Regions from separate parts of the Homo sapiens genome. Here region 2 is linked to region 1. The links come from fine-mapping of genetic effects on gene expression. A gene starts in region 1. The other region holds a variant in brackets. All regions are shown on one strand. Distances are between the middles of the regions.

The links.
Region 2: its variant is fine-mapped to the expression of HEATR6 in whole blood (TOPMed, PIP 0.99).

The regions. Positions count from the first base shown.
Region 1 is chr17:60,073,478-60,084,090 of GRCh38, forward strand. HEATR6 (HEAT repeat containing 6) reads right to left here and starts at 5,444. Exons shown (of 20, transcript NM_022070.5): 1 at 5,219-5,444; 2 at 2,653-2,760; 3 at 269-409. The coding sequence starts at 5,437. It overlaps HEATR6-DT (HEATR6 divergent transcript), which reads left to right and starts at 5,832. Exons shown (of 2, transcript NR_135648.1): 1 at 5,832-5,995. It also overlaps the pseudogene WFDC21P. RefSeq lists a silencer at 5,101-5,230.
Region 2 is chr17:60,009,671-60,020,283 of GRCh38, forward strand. LOC105371848 (a long non-coding RNA gene) reads left to right here and starts at 9,476. Exons shown (of 2, transcript XR_007065868.1): 1 at 9,476-9,553; 2 at 10,011-10,341. It also overlaps the pseudogene TBC1D3P1-DHX40P1 and the pseudogene TBC1D3P1. RefSeq lists an enhancer at 888-1,387. The variant C/T (reference allele first, on the strand shown) is at 6,271.

The sequences.
Region 1 (10,613 bases):
CTGCTGATGCTCTTTAGTGTGGCCGTATGGCTGATGGGTAATGATAATATTAAGAATAATGTTTACTATTTACCGAGGGCCATGAACTTGACACGTATTGTCTCACTTCATCCTCAGAGTAACTATTTTATACATGAGGAAACAAGGCCCAGAGTGGTTGAATAAGAATTGCTAGAGATTAGTGGCAAGATAGAAACCTGAACACAGTGTTGGCACCAGAGTCTGTGCTCCTGGCCTTTCAAAGGAAGGATAAAGCACTTTAAACTACCTTTTGACATTTGGAGCCATTGCAGTACACCAGAGCTGCCAGGGCTTGAAGAATTTCCCTGTGTGTCCAGGAACTACACTGATGAATAGCCGAAATAGTATATGCCAACAGGAAATCCAAGTGCTGTTCATCAACAATTACCTAACAGGACAGGAAAAGATATATTCTGATCTAACTTTTAAAAAATATTATGCTTTTATGGACATGTATGCTCACCTGAATCAAGCTGTATAAAAGAGAGAGTGTGTGTCTGTCGTTTATGTGTCAAAAGGATCACCTCTAAAGGGCCTGAAAGTTTGATCAACGTAGGGGCCTTCTCCCCACCCCAAGGTCTTGCTCACTTCTTCCTCTTTAGTAAAGTAGAACTTGATGAAGTCCTTGTAACTTTTCCTTGAACTAACCAGACATTGGCAGCTGTGAATACACAGATATGAGTATTTCAACGCACTGAAATTTAATTAAACTGCCTTATACATAATAAACACTCAATGAATACACAGTGAACCAATATAACTGCTAAATACCTACTGCATCTCTAACATGACATGAGGAATACACCATGAAGAGAGGGCATATCCCTGCTGTCAAGGAGCTGATAATCTTGTTGGGACAGACCAGGCTAATCCAAGTGTCAATTTATGGACAATTGAGACAAACTGTCACCAAGTGCTGGAAAGCTGGTAAAGGGTTATAGGTGCCACAGGTGATCAGGAACATCTCCAATTGCCAGTGTTACAAAGATGATACACCTGAGAATAGTAAACATACAGAAGCTACCTCATGTTAGTTTCAAAGATTCTAAACTGAAAACAGCCTTACTCCATGCAGCAGACACTGTTGGTTACCTACTAGCATCCATTTCTTCCTTCCCTGCTGGCAGAGTACTAATTTAATTGGATGTCCACCTCTCCCATGTGAGACCTAAGGGTAAACGCTAATTAGTTTAAGAGAGTGGGGCAACCTGGGGCAACCTTAACCCCCAAGGAACATTTGGCAATGCCTGTATACATTTTTGACTGTCACAATTGGAGAGGTGCTACTGGCGTCTAGTGGGTAGAGGCCAAGGATGCTGCTAAACATTCCACAATGTGCAAGACAGCCCCTAAAACAATGATCTGAGCCAAAATATCAATAGTGCTGAGGTTGAGAAACCCTGATGTAGGCTAACTGTGGCTGCACATTGTAAGCATCAAGGGAGCTTAAGTCCTCCTCCAAGTGATTCTAATGTGTAGTGAAGGTTGAAACTACTAGCTGGAGCCATTCACAATAAGACCATCCTCCTGCTTAAAGACTGGTTTAGAGAGGTATTTATATGACCTAAGTCTCTCCAGCAAGATATTGGGGAGTCTACTAGAGAGTTCATGGGACACGTTTCCTTACTGTTAAGTACAAGAGACACAACATAAAATAAAGTTAATTAGCTTCTGCTGAACAGTAATCATTTCTTTGGCATGGGATGTCCAGAATTGGCACAGCCATCTTATGACTGTGAGACATGCTAGCTGAGGATAACCCACATGCTGAGGACGGTGAAGGGAAAGATGAGCCTCTTATTATTAAGGGGCTACAGATGCGTCCCTTGGGACTTGGGACATGGAGTGATTCCTTTTTATTTTTTTAAAAATTGTTTAGTGACTCTGGGATGGCTTTTCTGCTTATTGCAGCCAAAAGCATCCTAATTCACATAATGCTAGTTGATATGTTTTGTGCTCTTAAATATATTCACATACTCATGTGGTAACAGTCTTAAATAAATAACTGGGGTCTTTTTATCCTGCTGTCCCCTTGGCCCCAAGCTACTTCTTATATTTTAGAAGCATCAAAAGTAGACCATAAAAATGGTAGCTTCAGGAAAGGGGAAAAATATTGGTGGGAAAGAGGCAGGGGATTATTTCAATTTATTCTTAGATATATTTTGTTCAAATATATCTTCCATAAGAAATTATAAATTAGCCGGACGTGGTGGCGGGTGCCTGTAGTCCCAGCTACTTGGGAGGCTGAGGCAGAAGAATGGTGTAAACTCGGGAGGCGGAGCTTGCTGTGAGCTGAGATCGCGCCACACTCCAGCCTGGGCAACAGTGTGAAACTCTGTCTCAAAAAAAAAAAAAAAAAAGAAATTATAAGGTTGGGGGGCCTGAATGATATTGGTTTACTGAACCAAACAGAAAGGCATACTTCTAATAAACAAACTTCTAGAATTCTACAGAATAATTTTTTTGGATCAGAGTTATATTTGCTTTAAAAGCATTCTTATTTAGGCATTTGCTTTTCCTATAGCATCTCAAAAAACAGCCTATCATACCTACTACAGATGTAGTATTTCAAAGGTATTTACTTACTCTCAAAGTTCATGATCTGAATTCTAGAGTTACATACATGATTACCTGTAATCTGTTAAGTAAATGGTGGATAAGCTGGCTCACTTTGCTGACAAGATGATTCTGATTAAGAGGTACCAGTCGGCAAGCCTGGACAAGAAGAGCACTAACGTCCTACCAAAAAAAAAAAGATAAGAGGTAAAATACTTATTAGTCAAGTGAAGATCCTCAAAACACAGCCAAATGGGAAAATAAAAGTAAATATTCACATTCAAAATGGGGAAAGAAAATGTGAGGCAGGAAGGAAAAAAATGAAGTGATAGCACAAAAACAGCATGTGCTAAAAAAGAAGGAAAAAGCCAGGCACAGTGGCTCACACCTAATCCCAGTTCTTCCGGAGGTCAAAGCGGGAGGACTGCTTGAGCCCAGGAGTCCAAGACCAGCTTGGGCAACATAGTGAGACTCCATCTCTACAGAAAAAACTTTTTTAAAAAAATTAGCTGGATATGGTGGTATGTAGTCCCAGCTTCTTGGGAGGCTGAGGTGGGAGGATGGCTTGAGCCCAGGAGTTTTAGGTCACAGTGAGCTATGATCTTGCTGCTGCACTCCAGTCTGGATGACAGAGTGAGACCTTGTCTCTTAAAAAAAAGAAAAAAGAAAAAAAAAGGAAAAGAATCAGTACGGTTTTGGTCAGGCTGAAGACTCTGTGCTCTCTATATGTAAAGACAGTATAATTAAATAACCAGAAAAAGGCTTCTAGGGTATGAAAGCACAAACTGAAGCTAAAAATATCAAAAGGTAAGTGAACCAGATTTTCAATGCCATTGGGAAAAATCAGACCTAACACTTCTATGGATTTTATGCATAATTAGGGAATTCTTAAAAAAAAAAAAAAAAAAAGAGGGACCTATTTGCAAGTCACACTCTTCATCCATCGATGTTTATAGAATGACAAGGTTCTGAGCACCTACTATGTGTCATAGTGTGCTAGGTCTTTGGGCTCCAAAGGTAAAACAAACATGTTCCTGAACCTCAAAGAGCTCACAAACTAGTGAGAGAGAAAGAAACACAACAAATAATTAAAATAAGGTGAATCAAGTGCTGAAAGAATAAAGTACAAACTCTGTCCAGAAACAGTAATTAGGGAGGCCTTGTGGAGGTGACTGTAAAGCAGAATCTGGAATGATTTGAAGGATGAGGAGAAATTTGCCAGATAGGGCATCAAAAAACACTGCAAGCAAAGTGGACAGAGTATGCAAAAACCTGGAGGTGTGAAACACTAGTAGGTGCCTGAAGAACAGCAAGTTTTAAATGGCTGCACACAGGAACAAAAGGGGGAGTAACAGGAGAGAATGGAAGTTTTGTTGCAAAAGTATCCAATTACACAAATACAGCAAAAGTCCCCGACTACTGCCTTAATCTCACTCTGCTTCCTAATGACATACACTATTATTCTGTAGTCAATTCTTTCAGACCTTTTACTTTGCATATATAAACACACATATTTTAAAATCCCTCCTCCAGCTTCATACTGATCTCATTCTGTATGAATTGTCCTGCAACTTGCTTCAACCATTTACCAATACGTATTGAAGACTTTTCCAAAGCAGATTTTAAAGTTTATGAACAATTTTTTTTCCTCCTAAAGAAAAGATCATTCTGGCATTGGAGGAATGACTGGCTTGGAGAGGAGCTAGACAGGAGGCAGGAGATCAGTCAGAGGGGATCAGCGAACAGTCCAGGCATAAGTCGCCTTGCCTGAGGTCTAAGGCACTCGCTATGGGAATAGACAGGAGGGGATGAACTGAGAAATATATATGAGACACATTCTGAAATACCTGAGTTGGTCAGGATCTGGGATGAAGGAGGGAAGAACCAGTGTTTGTGTCTGGTGTGACTTGGTGGATGATGCATGTGTGTTGGAAGGTGGGATGGACTGGGGACGGGAATGCGTGTTTGGAGCTAATGAATTTCATCTTTAGGAACTGTCTAGTTTGAGATGCCTGTGCAAGCAGGCAACTTGCACCACTTCCCTCTTTCCTACGTAGGGCCAGAAGGCCATGGTGTCAACAGTTCAGAGAATTCATTAATTTAAGGCCTGATGTGTGTAAGATTACTCAGAAAGACGGCAGAGGGGAGGAGCTAGTGTGTAGGAACAGAAAACATAGGGGCTTTGTGGCAGAGTTTTGTATACTGTATTTTTACGAGCTTCAGTATTTTCATTAGCAAACAAGCCCTAATACTACGCAAGTTCTAAGATTCCCACGTGGTCCGTGTACCATGTACGCAATAAACAGTAGTAATGCATTTTGTCAACCAAGTGTTCTGGGTGCACAGAGAGGGAGTGAAGGAGGGTGCGGGCGGATGGAAAGTTGGTATCAGAGAGGAAACCCGAGGCATTATCAGAGCAGGAGTCGTCAAGTTGGGTTTTGAATGACTCGAGCGTGCCAAGCACTGCAGGGTCTTCCAAATGGAGAACTAAGAATGTGCCAAGGTTGGAGGGGGCACGCCATCCTGAAACTAAATCATCAGGCGCGAGAGTGGGAAGATCAGGGAAAGGCAGGCAGAGGCCACCAGCTGGGTTCCCGGAGGGGTGGGGCCGGGGCCGGGGCCAGCAGGGCGCGCCGCCTACCTCCGGGGCCACGCCACTGCCCTCGCTGTAGTTCTCGGAGATGAGCTGATCGAAGAGCAGGTGGATCTCGGTGCGGGCGGAGCTGCTGTCATCCGGGCGCAGGGCGCAGAGCCTGGCAGACAAGAGGCGAAACCCATTGCCTCGCTCAGGGATTGCTTCCCGCGGTGCCTCCCGCGGCTGCACGGAAGGCCACGAACCGACAACTTGCACAGCAGCCATCTTTTCTACGGGCGGGGGGGGTGGGTGGGGTGATCCCAGGGAAATACTTCCGGGACATCCTCCCGTTCCGCGCGCTCTAGTTCCGAAAGTACCTTTTTTAGACCGGACTGGGGCTCAGAGGGGTTTCCATGACTACGGGACTCCTCCGACCGGTACCCTGCAGATGCTTGTCAGAAATTGGCTTGGAGGCCGGGCTCGGTGGCTGACGCCTGTAATCCCAGCACTTTGGGAGGCCGAGGCGGGCGGATCACGAGGTCAGAAGATCGAGACCATCCTAGCTAACACGGTGAAACCCCGTCTCTACTAAAAATACAAAAAAAAAAAAAAAAAAAAAATTAGCCGGGAGTGGTGGCGGGCGCCTGTTGTCCCAGCTACTCGGGAGGCTGAGGCAGGAGAATGGCGTGAACCCGGGAGGCAGGGCTTGCAATGAGCCAAGATCGCGCCACTGCACTCCAGCCTGGGCGACAGAGCGAGACTCCGTCTCAGAAAAAAAAAAAAAGAAAGAAATTGGCTTGGAGATTTTTCGCCGGCCACTCCTTCTTGAGCCCTGACTGAAAAGTGAGTTCTCAATTTGTGCTTCCAGAAAGTTTGTCCTCCCAGAGTTTGTTCCTGGACAGGGCTGAAGGTACTCTGTTCCGTACTAGAGTTTCAGATTCGGGCTGGAGTTGGAGAGGGTATGCTGTGGATGGCAGTAGCAGAAACCGCTAGTTCTAAGGCACCCTTCTACTCTTCTAAAATCTTTCCCCAGGCACAAAACCACCCGGAATAAAGGCTACGTTCCCTAGCATTCCTTGCAGTTGGCTGTGGCTCTGTGATTGCAATCTGGTCAGTGGAATATAAGGCAGCTTTCCCTACTTAAGTGACAGCTGGCTGTACTCTTGGTTCCTTTTTCTCCCTTTTTCCCAGTGTGAATCCTCTCATGGATCATGAGGCACCTCGCCCCACTAGAAGAGTAATTTTGGAGTTTAACTGAATCATGTAAAATATAATCTGCCTAAGAGTGACCGGGTTGAAATGAGACACCCCAAGATTTTCTGAAACCTTGAAGTCAAGAAGCTGGAGAATAAAATGGCCATTTAAAAATCTGTGATCACTTTTCAGTCATCCAGGAAGTGAAGGCTTGACTTTCACAGTTGGGCAGATTGGGAAAACCATCTCTAGGGCCTTTGAGTTATGCAAATATAAAGCAAATCCTCACCCTTGGCCCTTAGGGAAAACCTTGAAGTCACCTGAATGTATGTTTTATCCTGAGAACAAAACATTTCTGTTCAGCAGTGAAAATTGGGGGTATGCTTTAGCAGAGGTAGTTTTCTGAAGACTTTGGGCTTGGGGAGAAATGTTAATTTTTTTGTTTGGATTTAGATTCCGTTGTGCTGGTATATTATTTCTTATTCCTAGTCTGTGTACATATGTGCGTTATATATGTGCATGTGTGTGTGTGTATTCGTGTAAAGAAATGTATTCAAGCATTTGTTCAGAGAAGATCAGGAGCTGAAACCTAGTCGTTGGATATTTTAATCTGGGTTCCCTGATAGCAGAGCCTCAGATGAGGTTGATAGGTGAGGGATTTATCCAGAAATGAACAGGGAAGGAAGGAGAATTAATACCAATATGTGCTATTGAGTTGGCCATTGCAAGGGGTGACTGATTGTTCAGTCCTCAGGAGTTTCTGAGAAGCCTTGTGAAGCTCTCAAAACCCTTCTTCTGAGGAACAGAGAGGAAAAGCATTTATCTGTCAGCTTTTGAAGTCTATTGTCAAAAGTTGACCACAAGGCATTAATTCACTGGTGTTCCTGTGTTGAGCATGCATCTGTGCTTGGTTCCTGGAGGAGTCCTATGTTGCATAGTCAAAGAAGCCCTGAGGCAAAAGTGAGGAAACTAGGTGCATATCTGAGGCAAGGCTCTCACCAGTTATACCTGTGCTAAGCTAGTAGATGCCTGTGATAAACTAGTTGCTGTAGCAATGGCTAGAGTAAGAATGTAAGACCAAGAGTATGTGAAGTAGTACTAAAGAGCTGTCTTACACATTGGGCTAGAAGGATGTGAGGCCTGGTCATTTCCACAATGCACGTTCGAAGAGACTGGAAAGGATCTGGGTTTGGTGTGGTTCACTTTAAGTTGCAATATGGATGACCTACATATTGTGTTATTCAGGGTGGAATGGCCCAGGAATTGTAAAATACAGTATACTGATGCCGGTCTGTTCAGTTCTGGTAGAATATACTGTTTTGGATCAGTGTGGTTCCTTTAAGGAAATGGACATCCCTACTCTGCAGTGATCACCAACTGAAGGAAACGTATCTCAAGCTCTGAGGGAGGCCTTTGAAGGCACCCTGCATTGGCTTGAGTTTAGACAGTAGCACTCCTGCTCCCACCTCCCACCCTGAAACTGTGGAAACACAGCATGGCAAAAGCTCTCTTCCAAGAAAATCTTCTGTCTCCTCCTCAATTCTCTGCATTTTCATAGTCCTGCAGTGACTGAGGGGCTTTAAGGGGTGCTAAGCACGTTCACAGCCATTTCCTTTGTTAGATTCTGCATCGGATGATCTGGAACCTCAGTGGAATTTCACTCCTTTCATGTGTGGAAACCTCTCAAGACTTCACTTTTATCCCTTCATGAGCGTCTGGGTCATCCTAACTCACGTAGGCTTGCATACCCCCACTTCACTCTAATTCACATCTTTGATTATTTCCTTCGGAAAATTTACCATAACCTGCAGTTATCTTGTTTATTTGATGACTTTATCATCTGTTTTCCCCTCTAGAATATTAACTTTATGAAGGCACAGTTCCCGTTTGTCTCATTCGCTGTTGTATCCCAGGGCTAGCACAGCCCCTGGGATGTGGTAGATGCCCCACAATATTTGTTAACAGAATGAATGAATTCACTAATTTTTTATTCAGGGTCCCCTATTTGCCACCGGTTGATGTGAAAATCGAATGGGATTTTTGTGAAAATGCTTTGTAAACTATAAAGTTTTATAAGTCTTAGTATCAAATGAGGTAGATATTATTTCCCCCTTTTATAGTTGGGAAAATGGTGCCGAAGAGTATAAATGGTTGGTCAAGGCTGCACAGGCAGCAAATTGGTTGAAATCAGATTGCAGCCCAGGCTGGCTGTGATTGTGAAGAACATAGACAAGAAATTATAAACCCATTGTTTTTTACCTCCCACATTTTGTAATGGGGAAAACCAGAAGACAGGAGCTTGATTTCGGTATCCAGATTACACTTTGAACCAGGAGAGGCTAGGAAGGAGGATTGGCCTTGAGTTCTGTTTCAGGGTCATCAGCCTATCTATGTGATTACATAGGAGTCCCCCCTTATCAGTAGTTTCACTTTCAGCCTTTTCAATTACCCGTGGTCAATCACAGTATGAAAATATGAAATGCGCTGGGCGCAGTGTCTCATGCCTGTAATCCCAGCACTTTGGGAGTCCGAGACGGGCTGCTCACTGGAGGTCAGGAACTCGACACCAGCTGACCAACATGGTGAAACTCCATCTCTACTAAAAATACAAAAATTAGCCGGACGTGTTGGCACACGCCTGTAATCCCAGCTACTTGGGAGGCTGAGGCAGGAGAATCACTTGAACCTGGGAGGCAGAGATTGCAGTGAGCCGAGATCACACCATTGCACTCCAGCCTGGGTGACCAAAGTAAAACTCCGTCCAAAAAAAAAAGAAAAAAAAAACGAAATGGAAATTTCCAGAAATAAACAATTCATACATTTCAACTTGCTGCTGTTCTGAGTAGCGTGATGAAATCTTGCGCCATCCCACTTCATTCTGCCTGGAATGTGAATCATCCCTTAGTCAAGCATATCCACGCTTTATATGCTACCCACCCGTTAGTCACTTAATAACCATCTCAGTTATGAGATCCACTGTCCCAGTGCTTGTGTTCAAGTAACCTTTATTTTGCTTAGTGGTCTCAAAGCATAAGAGTAGTGATGCTGGCATATTGTTATATTTGTTCTATTTTATTATTAGTTATTGTTAATCTCTTACTGTGCCTAATTTATAAATTTACTTTATCATAAGGATGTATTTATAGGACAGAACACATATATAGAGAGTTTGATACTATCCACGGCAGTATATGTAGAGTTTGATACGATCCACGGTTTTGTGCATTCACTGGGGGTCTTGAAACATATCCCCCGTGGATTAGGGGTACTACTGTGTTAATAATCATTGTAGTTAACACTTACTGAATGCTTTCTATGTGTCAGCACTTTATGTGACCCTCTTTAATCTTTGTAGTTTCATGAGGTACTATTATATATATGAGTCGAATCACAGAAAGATGAAGACTCTCACTGAAGGCCACATGGCTGTGTGGTGTGCCTGGGTTTGAAATTCAGAGTCAGGGCTCCTGACCACCATGCTATAATGCATAGGACTTATATGGCGTTCGACATGAGATTATAGTTTAGGCCCTGACACTTACCTGCTATATGACTCTGCCCCAAACCTCAGTGTCCTCAAATGGTAATGATAAGAAGTGCAGTCAAAAGGTTGTTAAGGTTACTTAGATAATGCCTGGGGAGAATTTAACATGGTCCTTGTTGATAGTCAGTACGCAACAAATGTCATCTGTCCTCCTCCCCCTCCTCCTCACCTTTAACCAAATAACTCAAATAGTATGAGTGCTTTTAACAATGATGATTTATTAAAAGAAACAACCCCTCTTCCCTGCCTCCCATATCCCCTGTAGTCTCCATCCACAGGCTTGCTGTTTTCATCCATCTTCCTAGTCAAGGAACTCCAGACAGTCACATCTTGGAAGATAGGAACTCCAGGAAGGGATGACGATCTTAGGGAAAGATGATCCTTAAGATAACTCTTCATCTGAGAAAAAGACAAAAAAAATTTTGCCCGAGACCTGCTGTTTTGGGGACCTGGATCCACAGAATACAATCAAGAGGCAACAGTTCCCAATTTGGGAAATCAATCACACCTGCAAAGAGCCAGCCAGGCCCTAAGCAGTCCAAGGATTGCAGGTGGATTGGCCAAACAATACATTCTGAACACAAAGGGTTTTTATTTAAAGTGTATGCTGATTCTGTTGTGTTTAGTGCAACTTAGTTTATAATCAAAACTGGTAGCTTTTTATTATGCATTTTTCAACTAATGGCTACTGAAAACAAATAAATTATCCTGTGAGGCCCCTGA
Region 2 (10,613 bases), 64 kb before region 1:
TGAGGCTGTGGGTGCTTGCAGGGAGGGGCGGGGTCTCCCACAAATGGGTCTGGGCTCGGCTAGTAACTTGGAGGGCCCTGCGAGGGGGAGAGGGAGACACCGCAGAAAGTGGGAGGGGGCTTGTTGGAGGGTCTCGCCCACATCCCCCTCCTGCGTGCACAGCATGTCCAGTATACACGCACTGAGCGCCTGCCCTGAGGACCGGTGGGCCTCCTGTACTTTCTTAGAGTCCAGGAGGAAGAGGAGGAAGAAAAGGTGAAGAGGAAGGCCCAGGTAGTAGGGTTGCGGGTCCCGGGCACTCCCCTACTATTGACTACCCCAGAGGGTGACATGGGAGGGGACATGGCACTGGAGCCCACCTGGGGGTGGCAGGTCCCCCTGCTTTCTTGTTAGTTTCTTCATAGAGGCCCTAAGATGCTTGAGCACAGTGTCATCATCCCTGGCCCAGGCATCAACGAACCGGTTCCAAAAACGTGCCCACGGGCCACACCTGGACGTCTTCGTGAGGCGCTCTAGGGACAGGGTGGATATCAGGCCAGGGGAGTTACCTGGGAATGGTCACAGCTCATACCCCGTGGCCACTTCAGTCTCCCACTGGGCGGTGCCGGATCCTTTTGTGGCCACCCCAGGCGTCCAGATATACACAGGAGACTGTGGCTGGGGGGTGATCTGGACAGGGAAGTGCTCACCACACTCTCGACTTTCATCTGGGTCATGTGGGGAATGGGCTCGGTGTCACAGTGTCCTGCCCAGCCCACCTGGCCAGACCTCCCTCTGGGCCAGAACAGAGGATCATGAGGACAGTGTGAGGAAGCTGCCCTCGGGCCAGTCGGGGTCTGACCCCAGGGCTCCCCAGGCCCCGCTGGGCACACGTAGACTTACTCTACTGAACCTTAAAGGCGATTCTTGTTATCGGCATCAACGCCTGTTCGCCTTCTACCAGATACACGTCCCACAGGCGCAGGGTGAGCCCGAGAGAGATCTGTGGGGACAGCAGGTGTGAAAGAACCTGGTCCTTCCAGGCTGGGGCTGGTGGCTCGAGCTGCGCACACTGGGGCTTCAGTCTCCTGAGTCAGTGACCTTCCTTCCCCATGAGGGTCGCCTGAGCCCTCCAGGACGCTGGGTCAGACAAGGTCTTGAAGCTCCTCATGGGAGGCACTCATTTGAGTGGGGATGTGGCTCCTGGAGAGAGGGGCTTGCCCAGGGCTTGAGGCTTCCCTGAGCCCTCTCAAGTCGGGTCCTGGCCCAGTCTGCCCATGAGGCTGGGCCTGAGCCCCAGCCATTGCCCTGGGATGACCCCTCTTGGGCAGAGGGTTTTGCTTGTGTGTCCTTTGGGGACCCGCCTGAGCCTCCTGTGGGCTGGGAGTGAGCCAGACCCCCGGGCTGGGGAAGCAGGGCACTGCAGGGCAAGGAGGGTCCCTGAGCCAGGGTCTCCCTATGCCTCCTTACCCCGTCAATCAATATCCGGATGAGGCAGCCTAAGGACGAACACTGCCCACATAGATCTTTCTTGTCCTGATGGAAGCAACAGAGGTGCTCAGGCCACTGGGCTGCCCTAAAAACCTCCCTCTTCCAGGGCCTCTGAAGACCCTTCCCCTAGTGCAGAACACTGGGCGGTGTCCAGAGCTCCCCACAACACTGTCACCTTCCCACACTCCCGGTGGACACGCTGCCCTTTGCCCTGCTCTGCGGGAGCTGGGCCCCCATCCCTGTGCCTCTGTCTCCTCCAGGGCAGGAAAGGAAACCAACTCCCAGCCCATGGAGAACCCGACGTCCCAGGTCAGGCCCTGGCTGGGACTCAGCCAGTCACCAGCCCCACGAGGGGCTCCAGCCCCCCTGCTCCTACAGCCCCACGGGAGGCAGGGCCTCTGGGAAGAGCTGAGGGGACCATAAACTCACCTGATGCCACATGGTGTTGGGTAGTGACGTGGCTACCACATGCTCCTGTTGGTCTTGGAGCCCCTGGACGGTCCCGCCATTTGGGCTGTGAAATCCTGAGAAGCCCCCAGCCCATCGTGAAATCAGAGCCTTCCCCCAAGATGTGGAGCCATCAGCTGCAAGAGCTGGGCAGCTGGAGAGGCCCCCAAACCCCAAGGCCTCCCACCCTCCCATCTGGTGACCCCAACATGCGGCCTTTACCCTGGGGAGGTGGGGCGGGAACAGTCCCTGGAGCCTGGCTGGAGGTTCCCCTGGAGGCCTCCTGGGCCAGGGTGCAAAAAGGGCAAGCCTGACTTTCAGGCCACCACAGGGCGGCTGGAACTGGGTGGGTGCTGGGCTTCCTGGTCATCTCCTGGTAGTGGGGTCGGGCCAGGGAACAGGGGATGGGGAGATGCTGCCACCTGGGCTTGGTCGGCCCATTCGTGGGCACCGATGGCAGCAGGAGCCCGGGCAGCTGGAGGGCAGGAGGACTCTCAGGGAGGGGGAGAGTCAGCTGCACAGAATCAGAGCCGGAGGGCGTGGCTCCAGGACACAGAGGGTGGCCACGGGGAGGATGAGATGCCCTCTGCTGATGGGGATGAGAGGCGTCTGATTTGGGCTTTGGGGGTCAGCCGTGGACTCCTGTGGGACCCTCAGCAGAGACATCCTAAAGTCTCCCAACAAGCTGGTGACACAAGGAGGGTGCCTTGGCTGAAAGCTGTGATCACCTGGCCAGGGTGGCCATCCCCAGGTCTGGCTGCAGGAGGTCCCCGGGGCAGCTGTTCACTTACCCTGCAGGGAGTGCCTCTCACTGGCCAGCAGCTGCACCAGTGCCCAGAATGCATCCTCCTCAGGAAGATAAAGGAGGAACAAGGCGGCGATGTGGCTCAGGTCCCTGCAGTAGCCCACCTCCTGCAAGAGCCAGAGTCACCATGGAAGGACATCAGCTGGGAGGGCTGAGCTCACCTGGGAGGACTCATGTCATTGGAGAGGGCAGAGGTGACTGGAGAGGCTTCCTCTGAAGGAGAGGCTTCCTCTGAAAAAGAGGCTTCCTCAGGATGCACATTCATTTCATGACAAGAGCCAAGTCCATCAGGCACTTCAGCACCTTGTCCAAAATGTCTGCTGATAGCACCATCCTGTGTGCGATGCTGCCAAGCTCCTGGGCTTTGGGGCAGCCCCAGGAGGACGGCGTCATTTCTTGTTCTGAGAAGTGGTGGTCAGGCCCAGGTGACACCAGGAGTCCAGGCCCTGACTCCTTTGTGTATCAGCTTGACCCCTTGAGACCACCCCCTTCCTTGGAGGTTTATGCCAGCAGTGAGCTGACATCCTACTTCCTATATCCTGGTGGGTCACAAATACTAATTTTAAAAGAAGCAACGACACCCCCACCAGACACCCACTCCTGTGAATATGGAAATATGGCCCGGGAACCTCACTGCCGGGAATACTCACCGGGTTATACTCCTCATACGCCAGGAGGATGTAAAGTAGTTCCCGCTGCCTAGGAAACAGAGAAAGGGGGCTTTGGTTTGTTTTGTGCAGATGTTGTTAATTTCACTTTGTCTACAAAGCCTAACAGCAAATCCCATTTCAGGTTCAGATGATTCACCGGATAAGCAGTGAGCTCTTCAGGGCCTGAGACTCTTGAAGAAATGTTTCAGTAAAATCCACATCTGTGACATGCAAATAGCCCAGTTGTACAGTGCCTGATCCTTTTCACTCTGAATGATTTTTTTTTTTTTTTTCAGTTTGCACACACCCCAGTTCAGTCTGTGGGTGTACAGTTCCTCCACGGTTCCAAACCAATGTGCAGAGTCTCCCGGCCACCGCTCCAGCCCCTCCTGGGGCGACTCCTTCATCCTCCAAGTCTCCAGGGTGGCCCCTATGCACCCAGCCTCTCCCCGATCCGTCAGCCCCTGGCCACCCAGACTGCTTCTCAGTCCCTGTGGTTTGGCCTTTTCCAGAATGGCCTAGGAATGGGAATCCTACTGTGGTAGCTTATTGGGTCTGGCTTCTGTCCCTCAGCAAAATGCATCTAGGATCCACCCACGTTCGTGCGGGCATCACTGGCTCGTTCCCTTTTCTCACTGGGTCTTCCGTTTGAAGGGAGGACCAGCCTTGCTCTCCCCATTCCCGTGTTGAAGGCCGTCCCCGAAGGCTCCGTGTGTGAGTGACGAGGAGTCAAGCAGTGAACCTGGCATGCAGGTTTCATGTGGATGTCAGTTTCCAAATCAGTGGGTTCAATCTCTGTGACACTTTGGGGATGCGTGGTTCAAGTCCATCGAGCTTTGTGAGCCACTGCCCAACTGGCTGCCAACGTGGCTGTGCCATGTCATGTTCCCAGCAGACCTGGATGAGAGTTTCCAGGACCCCTAATTCTCCCAGCATTTGGTGCCCTCTATCCTGCCACCCTCCCGTGGCTCCTACCATGGGTCCCCATGGGTCAGGGAGAGCACCTTTCACCATTGTGCATGATTTTGTTTGCTGCCTTCCATCTCCTCAGGATCCTCCTGGGTTCTGGCCCCACATGTTCCAGTCTGGCCCAGGGCTTGGAACCAGGGAGGTGCTCGGTTCATGGTGCCGGCTGCTCCCTGGGCCAGGAGAGCTCTTGGCAGCTGTGTCATCCCTCCTGGGTGACCCTGGCTTCTGCTCCGGGGAAGCCCCCATCCCTCTCATTCACCCCATCTCTGCTGGGACCCTGTGGCTTACTTGGTTCCGTATCGATCCCTGAAGAATATATGCCTCCTTAATGTCCCGCTTACGTCCAGGTCCATCTGCTGGATGTGTTCAGATGACCTCTTGCCCTTCTCCTTCATGATCTGTAGGGCAGGGCCAAGAGGAGGAAGCAGTCTCAGAACAGATGGAAGACTCCCTGCCCCCAGTGGCAGTCAGCCCACAGTCAGCACTTCGGGAAGGAAGGACAGAAGGAAGGTTTCCTTCTGCAGAAAGCTGCATTTTGGCTTGTTACTGAAGCCAGGGAGGGTCACCAGAGCTGAGTTTGTCTGTGGTGACTGTGTCACCATCTGTGCCCAGGGTGTTCATCTGACCTTCACCCCCAGCTCCCCAGGGTGGTCTTGACGTTCCCTCCAGCTGGAGACCTGGGCCCCTGACACGGCCTGTCCTGTTGGTTGTGCTCTGGCTGAGCGTACCTGGTATCTTCCGGGGTTTTTCAACTTGATTTCCTCAATGTTCAGGAGGACTGACCACATCGGGCCCCGGATGTTCATGGGAATTCCCTGGTACGCTCGATCTATGAGCTGTGGGCAGAAAACAATCTGGTGTCGCAGGCCACGGGGTGACCCCAGTGAGGACCAGAGCCCGGGGATTCTGGAAATTGTTGGTTTTGGCCCCATGATTCCTCAGTAGAGGTGAGATCAAGCTGGGACAGGGTCTCCCTTCCCAGGACTGAAAGAGTGGATGGACACTCAGAGTCGAAACTCTGATCTGAACCTTTTCCTTCCTTCAGGTCACCAGGGCATCCCTAGCCTTGAGCTCCGGGTAGTCCCAGCCCTAGATTCAGATTCCCTCCCAGCAAGGTGACGCTTGCACGAATAGGCAGGAAATCTGGCGACCAGGCCTGCAGTCCTCTGGGCGAGGACAGCGTGCCACCCACCCTCTGAGAGGCTGACGGCGCCAGGCCACAGCCATGGGTGCCTGTCCCCTGTCTCTGCAGAGAGTGCTTCCTCCCTCCACACATTACCTTTCTGCTGTTTTTGTAGGTGTCCCATTCTCCCAGCATTTTCACCCACTTGCTCTTTCGGCTGATCTCCCGCCGAATTTGCTGTCAAATGAGGCATGTTGGAGTTAGCGGAGCTGCCAGGCTTCCCAGAGCCGCCCGCGGATGCTGGGTCTTGGGCTCTGGAGCCCTGGTGGGAGCCAGCTGGAAGGAGCCAGGGAAGGGCAGACCTCAAGGGCTGAGAGCCTTTGAGCAAATGAGCACCAGTGGGCTGGCTTTGGGACCCCGGGATGTACCATCCTCAGGCCACAGCCACACCAGTCTTAGGTCCCAGCCTCTAGGTGGGATCCTGACACAAGCGCGCAGCCACCCCCAAGCCAGGACTGTGGTTCTCCTTTTGGAATTTTATCAAACTGCCAAAGTTAACAGCAACCTGGGGTCAGGTCCAGCAGGGACTGCTGCCCCTCCCAGTGACAGCGCGTTGCCCTCACCCGCCACCGCTCAGGCCAGCTGCTTCCTCTGCCTCACTGACCACCCGCCCAGTCCCTACGTCCCTGGACCAGCCCCTCCATGCATCAGGCTCTTACCTTCACCTCCCGCGCAGTCAGAGGAGGCAGCTCCGTCTCACTGTAAGGCAACCCAGGCAGAGCTGAGGAACTGCACGGGGCCTGGAG[C/T]GGCCCCAGCCTGGGTGCCGGCCCCCAGAAAGGACTGGCTCTGTCCCTTTCCAGCTCAGGGCTCAGCCCAGGAGAAGGCACAGGGAAGGGAGGACAAGGGCCTTCCTGTGGGGCTGACTCCCAGGAGGGGCAGGACCTGGGAGAAGAAGGAGTGTAGGGACAGCCTGGCCGGGGTTACTGGGGCCCCTGGCGTGGGGGGCGGTCAGGCTGCCCAGTGGGGCTGCCCGTCCTGGACTCGAGGTGGTGCTTTCTGCTGGAGCTGAGAAAGGTTAGCCCTGAGATGGGATGGGGGCCGCCCAGGGTGGGTGACCGGGCCCTGACAGGAGTCCCTCAGGGAGTGACCACATCACCCCGCCAGGGTCAAGGGAGCCTGCCCTGAGACCTGCCCCGTGTACTCTGGGTGCACCAGGGGCCCATCCCACTTGACAGCCCCAAGGCCCTTGCAGGTTCTGACCTCCCAGCATCCACCTGCCTCTCCCTGCACCCGAGCCACACACCCTGCGTTTCAGAAGTGGCACGGCTCATCAGCTCCCTCCCGCCCTACCTCCCCTGGGATCCTCTGTCTCTCCATCCTGTGATCCCTGAGGGATGGGCTCCTGGCTGGGCTCCTCTTACCCGGCCCCAGATCCCTTCCCAGCACCAGACCCAGGTCTTTAGCCGCGAGCCCTGCTGCCTCCCCGGCCTCACCGTGAGATGCCCAGAACGGGGCCCTGCCCATCTTCCCCCCGTTCTCCTAGGGCTACAGCCCCCATTGTCACCATGCCTTTTCCCCTCACGGGACAGTGAGGGCCATAGCTCTAGGGGCATGGGGGAGAACAGGGGCAGGTGGGCCCTCAGAGACCTGCTGGACAACAGCCCTGAGGCCGGGCCAGGCGTCCCCTCACCCTGTGGCCATAACCCTTGCATCTCACCGGGGTTGTCTCCAAGTAGACAGGGCCAGACCCTCAGGCTGCCCAGCTCCTCTTGTGCTCACTTGCCGACAGAACTGCTGAGCGCCCAGGGGCCTGACCTAGCCCAGTCTCCATTCCCACCAGCTCCCTAGATGGGCCCCACACCTCTGGCCTAACAACAACCTCGGGCTGGACCTGCAGGGGAGTCAGGGAGGAGTTCTGTCCCTGGAAAGGAGGTTGACCCGACCTGGTGAGACATGTCCTGCATCAGAAAGGCCTTTCTAAAAGCAAACCCATCCCTGAGCTGAGACAGGTGCTTTAGGGGTGAGGGGAGTGCAGAGGACTCACTGTACAATCCCCAAATGATCGACGTTGTTGTTGTAGCTTCCAAAAGACTTAGGCCCCTTGTCCTCTGGCAGCCCAGCTCGGTGTCCCTGTAGCCCAGAGGGAGCCTTGGTGAGGGGTCCAAGGTAAAGGGTGCAAGGGCCTGGGGGCATTGGCCACCCGTCCCTGCCCTGTGCTCCTAGGGAGCCCAGGACCCTTTGACCAGGGCACACTGGAAGAGGCCTCCCTCCAAGAAGCAGACCGACTTGTACCTTTTCGTATTTCATAATGATGTCCTCTCGCTCTTGTGCCCACCAACTACCCGCGACCTCTACCACGTCCATCCTGTGAGACAAAATTGTCTAAAGGTTACACTGTACGCGGCGGCTTCGGAGAACACCTGAACCGCTCTCGCCGGGCTCCCAGATGCTGGCTGGCTGCGTAACCCCCATTCCACCGCCGCCCCCAGGGAAAAAGGGGCCAGACCCAGTGGCCCACAGCTGCTCGAGTCTCTGGAGTCTCAAGTCCCAAGCAGGGGTGGGCATCTTCCCAAGGACTTGAGTACAGTGGGACCTAGACAGAGAATCCTGTTGTCCCCCAGTGCCATGAAATGGGGACACACCGGCCCCAGCAGGTTGAATGGTTTCCACCTGCCAAGGGTGAAGGGCCCATGATGGGCTATTCCAGGGATGTGGAGGCAGACTGGGGTCAGCGACCAGAGGTCTCTGTACAATCGGCCTCCTGGGATGCTCAGGGCCTCAGAGATGCCCAGTTTCCTACAGGGAACAAGATCTCTCCTGACTGCTCGGTTCTACTCCGCTCATCACTTTGGCTACCGTGGCTCTTCAGTCTGAACAGTGAAGCCACTTCAGGAATAACGCCTGTTGAGCAGGAGGGTGTTCGGTTTGGGGGATGAGAAAGATCTATTGTACGCATGGAAACCACGTCTCTTGCGGAGGGACTGTGGAGTCCACCATTCTGAGCCGTCCCAACAGGAGGAGGCTTCATTTTCCTGGGTCACTGAGGAAGAACAGTGGGTCCTTGGTCCTGGAGAACACCTGGATGGACCGTCCCTCCTGGGAATACTCGAGGCAAAAGGAGGGCGAGGCCTCAAGAGGACCACACAGAGCAAGAAATGCCTGGGGAGAACCCTAGTGCCCGGACCCCTTTGAACAGAAGGGAAGATAGTCTCCCCTCAGCCAGCCCTCCAGGGCTCCTTCATTTTCCACAGCTGCCCAAGGGCAGCAGGCTCCCCCGGACAAGGGACCATGTGTGTTCAGTGGGGCCCACAGCGACCATCGGGACCCAGCTTAGGGCACAGAGGTGTTCTGAGGACCGTCAGTGGATCTATACCAGTGGATCTGTACCAGTGGATCTGTACCAGTGGCTCTGCCAGGACCAGGCTCTGCCCCATCGGGATCGGAAACCTGGGCAGATTTGGGATCTAGGGCAGGGAGGTCACAGGGTTCAGGCCTGAATTCCAGCACAGCACACGGCAGGGCTGAGAGCAAAACTCAGGGTCATGTCCGGATTCCCAGGCCGGTTACTGCCTCTCTGACCCCAGACGTCTCATCTGTCGAATGGTTACATTTGGGAACAGCACCCACTCTACGAAGCCACCATGGAGACGAAAGAGCCAATCGTCTACACGGGCAGTGTAGAACGGGCGCCTGGTGAGTGCTCAGGGATGACCCTCCTCGGTAGCTGCCCCACAGAGGCCAACACCGCCCGCACCGTAGCCACTGTCTCCAAGTCCGCCTGGAGGGAAGAGAGCAGGTCACGCTCACCTGACTCTGATGAATCAGCTGGCCTGGGTCATGCCTCTCAGGGAGAAAACCTTTGAGTCCACAGAGCTGCTCACAGATACCACTGCCTGTGTGTAACTGCCGTAGAACACTGAGGCAGGCCAGAGAGCGGATAGGTGCTAAGCACCAGTGACATTCTGAGGTCATGGCACGCATCACAATGGGGCCTTGCCCGGGTCAGCAGCGCCCAGAGTCAGGGTCCTCCGCTGCCTGAGGCGTCAACATGCCTGCCTGCAATGTGTTTGTGCACGTGCGTGCACACGTGTATGTGGCTAAACATGTCTGTGCACATGTGTGTTGCTTCTCTGGCCAGGCCCGGCTGCCCCACTCATGTGTGCACCCAGTTCCTCATCACTGTCACCCCCGAGGCCCAGGGCCAGCATCAGAGCGCCCAGGGCCAGCATCAGAGCATCCATGGCTGCTCCCTAACCTCAGCCCTCCCTGCCCAGGGTGGTCCTGGGATACACATAGGGGTGGAGGGAAGTGACTGCTGCTGCTGCTGGATCTCAGAATACAAAAGCTAATACTATTACCTAATGGTCTTTTTAGTGTCTCTAATGGTATCGCTTTTTCATTTCTGATATTTTAACTGGGTATTTCTCTCCATGACCCTTGGATATTCTAGCTAGAGGATCCTGTGAGGAAAGTGCCGGGCACACAGTAGGGGCTCACTCTTCTAGACATGTTATCTAAAACCTGATTCATCTGTCCTTCCACGCAGGGCCTAGGGGATGCCAAATTCCAGGGTCCAGAAAGAGCTTGGGATAAAATGAAACTTCAAGGGGACGGCTTTGACCTGGGCTGAGTCTGCCTGTGCCGAGTCTGCCTGTGCCATCCAACTGGAGTCTCAAGTCCTGAGGCAGGACGTCCAGATGCCCCAGTGCAGGGTCCTCCTGATCAACACCTGTCCCCCTGTACTCATTAGCAACCTCACCCACCCTACTCTCAAAGCACACTTGGCTCTCATATCCAGGAGCTCTGCATCTGTAGATTCAGCAACAGCAGATGGAAAATATTCAGAAAATAAATTGGATGGTTATATTTCTATTGAACATGTGCAGACTTTGTTCTTGTCATTATTCCCTAAAGAATACAGTATCATGACCATTTATGTAGCATCTGCATTGTATTACACATCCTGAATAATCTAGAGATGGTCTAATGTCTACAGGAGGATGTGCATAGCTGATATGTAAATACTAGGCCATGTTATGTCAGAGACTTGAGGATCCATGGATTTTGTCATCCCCGGGGACCCTAGAACTAATCCATGGATACCAAGGGATGACTGTAGAAACTCACTCAGGAAGGCTTCTCATTGGAG